Homo sapiens: one gene and its partner. The protein of the gene in region 1 binds, or shares a complex with, the protein of each later gene. Each region holds a gene or a part of one and is shown in the gene's direction. Other genes may lie near its edges. The genes, in order: SMARCA4 and DPF1.

The links.
Region 2: SMARCA4 (region 1) and DPF1 share a complex: the UniProt entries of both Homo sapiens proteins name them as parts of the neuron-specific chromatin remodeling complex.

The regions. Positions count from the first base shown.
Region 1 is NC_000019.10:11,026,840-11,030,646, forward strand, and holds part of SMARCA4 (SWI/SNF-related matrix-associated actin-dependent regulator of chromatin subfamily A member 4), read left to right. Parts: intron 1-944; coding exon 945-1,111; intron 1,112-3,807. UniProt on the Homo sapiens protein: ATPase involved in transcriptional activation and repression of select genes by chromatin remodeling (alteration of DNA-nucleosome topology).
Region 2 is NC_000019.10:38,214,112-38,217,918, reverse strand, and holds part of DPF1 (zinc finger protein neuro-d4), read left to right. Parts: intron 1-42; coding exon 43-121; intron 122-327; coding exon 328-459; intron 460-1,515; coding exon 1,516-1,566; intron 1,567-1,659; coding exon 1,660-1,779; intron 1,780-3,807. UniProt on the Homo sapiens protein: May have an important role in developing neurons by participating in regulation of cell survival, possibly as a neurospecific transcription factor. Belongs to the neuron-specific chromatin remodeling complex (nBAF complex).

The DNA.
Region 1 (3,807 bases):
TAACCCCAAGAGACAGGATTCCTGAGGCAGACCTGGCTTACAGATCCCACTCTGCCGCCTCCAAGCTCTGTGACTCTAGACAGCTTTCTTAACCTCTCTGAGCCTAAACTCTGCTCACTAGTACAGAGGCACTCTTTACATCATGTGGGTGTTTTCTATAGCACCCTTTGTAAGGGGCAGCCCAGACTCCTTTAAGCCCCTAATGGATGTGGATGCTGTGTCTAGATTTTCACCATTGCAAAGAACCTTGCTAAAAGCATTCTTCCAGCTAAAGCCTCCATTCAATTCCCCTGGGGTAGTAAGCCATTTGCAAGAAGAGAGGCGCCTAATGAAAACATCACAAATTCTTTTTGATGTGTTTTTTTATACTGAGTTGTGGAACAGGGTCCTGTACACCTGGCTTCAAGGCTGGGAGGCCTGGCTTGGACATGTGGTCAGCCATATCACGTCGTCCCCCTGCCAGCCTCAGTGTCCACATCTACAACACTTGGGGTTTGGCTGGAGAGAACATGAGAAGCCGAGGTGGCCCTTCCTTCTGGGTCTAGCAGAGCATGGGTGTCTCCAGTGTGGCATTTGCTCCTGGGGCTTCTTTATCGGGCAAGGGGACAAGGTCTGGCTTCCCGGAGCATCCCTGTTCCAGCCCCGTGTTGTGCCGGCCATGTGACTCACAGCTCCTCTCATTTTCATGAGTGTCTGGGTTTGACGAGAAATACATGTGCCACCCTGGTGATACGCCTCCCCAGCGAGGGTGGCCGGGCTTATTTCAGTTGGGGGAAATGGCTTTGCTGAAGCTTTGGGTGGGTGACGTCTGCTTAGGATGCATGTCTGTGCCCTTGAACCCGGCGCCTGGCCTGGAGGCGGGCGATGCACCTCCTGCCTTACCTGCCTGCAGGGTTCCAGGTTTAACATCCTGCGCCTTCTCTCCTGCCTCCTCCACACTCCAGGCTGGACCTGTACCGAGCCTCGGGTAAATTTGAGCTTCTTGATAGAATTCTTCCCAAACTCCGAGCAACCAACCACAAAGTGCTGCTGTTCTGCCAAATGACCTCCCTCATGACCATCATGGAAGATTACTTTGCGTATCGCGGCTTTAAATACCTCAGGCTTGATGGTGAGTATGAGCCAGTGAGGCGTTTCTTACAGGGTTTTGTTGTTGTGGCTGCCACAGAAGCTCCTCACTGGCATTCCCTCCTGTGAGGCAGGGTGAGGCCCAGGCGCTCTGGGTCCAGTGGCCAGAGTGGGCCTAGCCACAGGCTGAGCATCTTGGGCACTCGGCACTGGGACAGGCCGTGGATTGGACGCCGGGTGTCCTGACTCCTAGGCTGACAGTCTTTCCACGACAATGCTGGGCGCACTGGGGAAGGGGTGCCCTGTGCACTTTTAGCTGGAAGTGACAGAATTCCATACCATGTGGACACAGGAAAGAAAGCACCAATAGGCTTACATAGCTCTAACCCCAGGAGGTTAAACATCCTTCAGGCACAGCTGGATCCAGGCATGCAGGTGATATTGGAGAGACTTTTCTCCAGCTCTTTGCTCTGCCTTCTTCCATCTTGGCTTCCTTTCCACCTGCTCAGTGTCCCCAACAAAGGCAGGTCCCAGGCTGGCTCTCATTTAGCTGCTGTGAGCCGCATGCCCATCCCTGGGCCATTCGTAGCAGCCCAGTGACTGCCACCTTGCCACAGGTCAGGCCTGGACCTGGAATCAGACTCTGTGGTGAGCACGGAGGGAGGGAAGCAAGCACTGCCAGGCAGGAGCAGCAGCTGCCGTAGAGAGGCTCTCAGCCCAACCCCCTGCCCTGCGGTCCCTGATGGGAAAGGTCACCGCCTGTGTTTCTGCGCCTGCCTGCCCCAGCACACGGGAGCTCAGGGAGGAGAGGCTGTGAGATGCCGACAGGGCACGTGAGACATGTCTGTCAGTCCCAGTGGGTCAGGGAGCCCTGGAGTGAGTTCTTCGTGGGAGTTACTAGAACTGGGCTTACGAGAAACACGAGCATGAGCTGCTGAGACAGACACGGCTCAGCCAGTTTGTTGTTCCCTACACGACCTCCCAGAGCCTTTGTTGAAGCTCCTGTGCAAGGTCTGTCTCACAGCAGGACACCCCAGACCTCCATACCCCTTGTCCCGTTGATCACTTGGACCTGTGTTTGCTGGGCCAACCTGCCCAGGTGCCACCCGGAGTGTGCCCTGTGTGTCCCTCCAAACTGCAGGTCCTCCCCGGGGTTCTGTCCAGGACCACTCTACAGACACGAGTCTGTTGCAGGGGTCTCCCCGGCTTGCCTTCTTCCTTGGGGGCTTCCCACTTTCAGCTTTGAGGCTGAAAACCAAAATCCTTCAGGGTCCTCATGGCCGGGCCACCCCCCACCCTTTCCTCTCCTACGGTCTCTCCAGCGGCTTCTCCCGTCCTCGAGAGGGCCAAGGCTTCCTGAGGGCCATCCCGTCTGTGTCGTGTCCCTGACTCCCCCAGGAGAGAGCCTGGTTCCCACCCATCCCAGTGCCCTTCTGCCTACTCCATAAGGACAAGGACTTTGGTCAGTTGAACTACAGATGTGTCCTCTGCATGTGATGTGGTCATGGCCACAGGGCCAGAGAATCCATTGCGAGTAGAGGAAGGGTAGGAGCTCAGTGAAGTCTCCTGAGACTGCATCTCCCATGGGTGGGCTGGCATCTGGGAGCCGGGTGGCCCCTCACCTCAGCCCCTCCTCCGAGCTGGAGTAGCAGGGGCACATCTGGTGCCTGAGAGAGGGTGGGACGGCAGGTGGATGGCCAGGCTACTGTGGGCTTCTGCACCGTGCCTGGGCATGTGTAGGCTGGTGGCAGGAAATGGCCAGTTTTTATTTCTTCTTTTTTTTGAGACGGAGTTTCACTCTTGTTGCCCAGGCTGGAGTGCAGTGGCATGATCTCAGCTCACTGCAACCTCCGCCGCCTGGATTCAAGCGATTCTCCTGCCTCATCCTCCCTGGTATCTGGGATTACAGGCGCCCGCCACTACGCCCAGCTAATTTTCTTGTATTTTTAGTAGAGACGGGGTTTCACCATGTTGGCCAGGCTGGTCTCGAACTCCTGTCCTCAGGCGATCCACCCACCTCAGCCTCCCAAAGTGTTGGGATTACAGGCATGAGTCACCGCGCCCGGCCTGCCAGTTTTTATTTCATCACCAAAATGACTTCAGTGTTCAGGGGCACCTCTGTCCGAACTCCCAGCAGCGCAGGGAGTGTTGACATTGCCTTAATGCCCACAACGCTGAGGGCATCGTGGGTTGTCACCCAGGAGACCTGCTCTGGCTCCTTGACTTGGGTTTTCTGGGGCATGGGGACACTGATCCTGCCAGAAAGGACACGAGCCCCCTTTATAAGGTCTCCATGCTTTTACCGTAGAAGATTCTCTTTGTGAACCACAAAACTTTTTGAGACAGGGCTGAAGGCAGGTGCACCCACAGTCACTGTCCACCCACCCCCAGGTCCCTTGTGTTGCGAGCGGCGGTGTTGCCGGCATTGGCCGCTGTGTCTTCCGCTCCCCATGGAATGGCACAGGGTAGAGTAGAGGAGAGAATCCAGGGCTGTGGTGGTGGTGGCTGTGCTGACGCTGGACGCTGTGGCCTAGCTGTGGGCTGGGTGCTGGACTCTGTGCTCCAGGCCCACCTCCTCTAGTTCTCCCAGCGGGGCCTGTTTTCATTTCTGGGATGTGTGGAGAGACGTTTTGTGGTGAAACACTGGAAATCCAGTTATTCGCCAGTGGCCCACAGGCCCGTGTGGAGAGTGCGGAGCCAGGGATCTGGGGATGCTGGCAGGTGCTGATCCTGCTCCTG
Region 2 (3,807 bases), about 27 Mb from region 1:
TTTCTCACTTTCTTGGCCCCTCACTCCTGACTCTCCCCACAGGCATATGGCATCGGGGGTCTCCGGAAACGCCAGGACACCGCTTCCCTGGAGGACCGAGACAAGCCGTATGTCTGTGATAGTGAGTCCTTCTGAAGAGGGGGAAAGGCAGAGAGAGGGGTGCCCAGAGACTCCCCACCTCGTGGCCCTCTCCCTCCCGTTCCAGACCCGGGTTGGGAGGCTGCTCAGGTCTCTGGCTGAGGGGGGAGGTGTGATCCTGGAGGCCAGGGTGGAGGCGGCAGGGGCCCGGAGGGGCTGACAGGCCCTCCTGGCTCGCTCGCTCCCCAGTCTGTGGGAAACGGTATAAGAACCGGCCGGGGCTCAGCTACCACTACACCCACACCCACCTGGCCGAGGAGGAGGGGGAGGAGAACGCCGAACGCCACGCCCTGCCCTTCCACCGGAAAAACAACCATAAACGTGAGCTGGCAGGCCAGGTGGGGGTGGCCAGGGGCCCTGGGAGTGGGGAAGAGGAGCCCAGCTGGGGGTGGGGGTGGGGGGGCATTAGACATTTCTGGAAAATCTCCAGCTCAGCCGTTCCCTCCCCCCACCGACCATGGGGATGCTGGCTCCGGGGTTGCCATGGCAACCAACCATCGCTCCTTCGCTCCTGGCCGGGCGTAATATTTCTGGGTCTGATTTATTGTTTCAATTAGAGCTTGGGGAGGGGGGGTGATAGATGGCTCCCCTCCCGCCCTGCCTTCCCTTTCTCCTTTCTCTGCTAAGCTTTGGTCAAGGGGCAGGGTCTGTGGCCTGGGAGCCCTTGGCTTCCGCCCTTGCCAATCCCATGCCAGTTCTGACAGCTGAAGGATGGGGGAGGGGAGGAGGGTTTGGGAGAGGCAGTAGGGAGACACTGTCTTCCCACCTATCTCTCAGAGGCAGAGGCTGAGTGTCTTCACCCCTGGCCACTACACACCCACGCACCTCAGTGTTCGGAGTTTTTCTTCCGAGTGTCTGTTTCCATACCAGATCTTGGCTGGGGTACTCGCTGAATTTGTTAGATACAAATTACTGAGGGTGCAGTTGGGAGTGGCTGGCTGGGAGACATGTATGTGAGAAGGGAGGCAGGGAGCCCTTCCTCAAGCTGTCTACCAAGTTTTGACCCAATAAAGAGGACATGTCAGTTGTCTCAAGGAGTTGGGAATCCTGGCTGGGTGCAGTGGCTCACGCTTATAATCCCGCCACTTTGTGGCAGTGGCCGAGGTGGGAGGATCACTGGAGGCCAGGAGTTGGAGACCAGCCTGGGCAACATACCAAGACCCTGCCTTTATTTTTAATTGAAAAAAAAATTTAAAAAGGCAGAGTTGGGAGTCCCGATGAGAACTGTTTTCACCTCTCCCCACAGCTTGGGGTAGCTACTCACTCTTCCCAGCTCCCCACGCCTGGACTAAGAGGTCCATCCTTGGGGCTGAGGCTGGGGGCAGGGTGGAGCCTTGCCTGTGGTGAGAGTCCCTCTCTCTGTCCCCCCTACCCCAGAGTTTTACAAAGAATTGGCCTGGGTCCCTGAGGCACAAAGGAAACACACAGGTACGGATGCCTCCTTCTGCTCCTAAAGTCTGCAGCCACCTTTGCGGGGTGCCCTTGCCTGCCCCGTGCCAATGCCTGTCTGCTGTCTTGCAGCCAAGAAGGCGCCCGACGGCACTGTCATCCCCAACGGCTACTGTGACTTCTGCCTGGGGGGCTCCAAGAAGACGGGGTGTCCCGAGGACCTCATCTCCTGTGCGGACTGTGGGCGATCAGGTGATGCTCCCCACCTGAGGTTTCTGGGGGCCGGGTGCAGAGGACATTCAGGAGTGCAGACCTGGAGGGAGGGAGGCAAGGCGGTGAGGACCGAGGGGACCCGGAGCATGTAGGGGATACTGTGGATAACCAGAGCTAGCGAGGCTGATGCAACTGCTGAGGATTGTGGGAATTGGGTCGGATCAGTGAGGCTTTAGGGATAATGGGATGTGGCTCTCATGGCACTGTGGGTAGCTGCCTGTGCTTAGCATGGCATCAAGAGTAGTGAGAGGCCAGGTGTGGTGGCTCACGCCTGTAATCCCAGCACTTTGGGAGGCAGAGGTGGGAGGATCACTTGAGGCCAGGAATTTGAGACCAGCCTGAGCAACATAGCAAGACCCCCATCTCTACAAAAAATTTAAAAATTATCCAGGTGTGTTGTTGTGCACCTGTAATCCCAGCAACTCAGGAGGCTGAGGCCGGAGGCTCCCTTGAGCCCAGGAGTTTGAGACCAGCCTGGGCAACATAGTGAGATCCCATCTATATATAAAAAAAGTTAGCTGGGCATGGTGTTGCACCCCATTAGCCCCAGCTACTCGGGAGGCTGAAGTGGGAGGCTCGCTTGAGCCCAGAAGGTTTTTGTTTTGTTTTGTTTTGTTTTGTTTTTTGAGACAGAGTCTCCCTCTGTCACCCAGGCTGGAGTGCATTGGCATGATCTTGGCTCACTGCAACCTCCGCCTCCTGGGTTCAAGTGATTCTTGTGCTTCAGCCTCCCGAGTAGCTAGGATTACAGGCACCCGCCACCATGCCTGGCTAATTTTTAATATTTTTAGTAGAGACGGGGGTTTCACCATGTTGGCCAGGCTGGTCTCAAACTCCTGACCTCAGGTGATCTGCCTGCCTTGACCTCCCAAAGTGCTGGGATTACAGGCGTGAGCCACCGCAGCACCCAGCCCCTTGAATCTGGGAGTTTTTGACTAGCCAGGGCAACATAATGAGAGCCCATCTATTAAAAAAAAAATAGGCCAGGCTGGGTGATGTGGCTCACATCTGTAATCCCAGCACTTTGGGAGGCTGGGGCGAGCAGATCATGAGGTCAAGAGATCAAGACCATCCTGGCCAACATGGTGAAACCCCATCTCTATAAAAATACAAAATTTAGCTGGGTGTGGTGGTGCGTGCCTGTAGTTCCAGCTACTCCGGAGGCTGAGGCAGGAGAATCGCTTGAACCCGGGGCTCAGAGGTTGCCATGAGCCAAGATTGCACCACTGCACTCCACCCTGGGTATCAGAGCAAGACTCCGTCTCAAAAAAAAAAAAAAAAAAAAAAGGCTGGGCATAGTTTCGCACCCCATTAGTCCCAGCTACTCGGGAGGCTGAGGTGGGAGGATCGCTGGAGCCTGGGAGGTCAAGGCTGCAGAGTGCACTGTGATGGTGCCACTATGCTGCAGCCTGGGCAACAGAGTGAGACCTTGTTTCAAAAACCAAAACAAGACAAAAGGAGTAGCAAGAGACAGGGGCCAAGGCATGGCAGGTAGTGGGCTGTGTGGTGTGAGTGACGGACACCACCACCTGGGCACCGGTAGCAGGATGAGCTCGCCATAGAGTTGTGGTTAACAGAATGTGGTTTCCCATGGTGGGCTTGTGGGCAATATAGACTCTGGTTGCCTCAGCACAGTAGGTCATGAATTGTGGTTGTCGTGGCATCATGGGTAGTGAAATATGGTTGTCATGGCAACTCAGTATAATGGAATGTAGTTGTGATGGCACCGGGGCCGTGGTTGCAGGGGGCGGGCGCCATGGGTCGTGGCTGCAGGTAGCGGCTGCGGGTGTCTCTGCAGCGGGGCTGTGGAATGACTAAGCCTGGCGCTGCACAGTGCTGTGATGTGAGTAACAGTTTTGTTGCTGGGGCACCAAGTGGAATGGACTTCAGTTGCATGAAACCGAAGTGTGGGGACCCCGTTGTGGAAGGTGGTTGCCATGGCATTGTGGCTGGGAGAGTGTGGTTGCCACGTTGCTGTGGTTAACAGGACCCCTGGCCGTTCTGCTG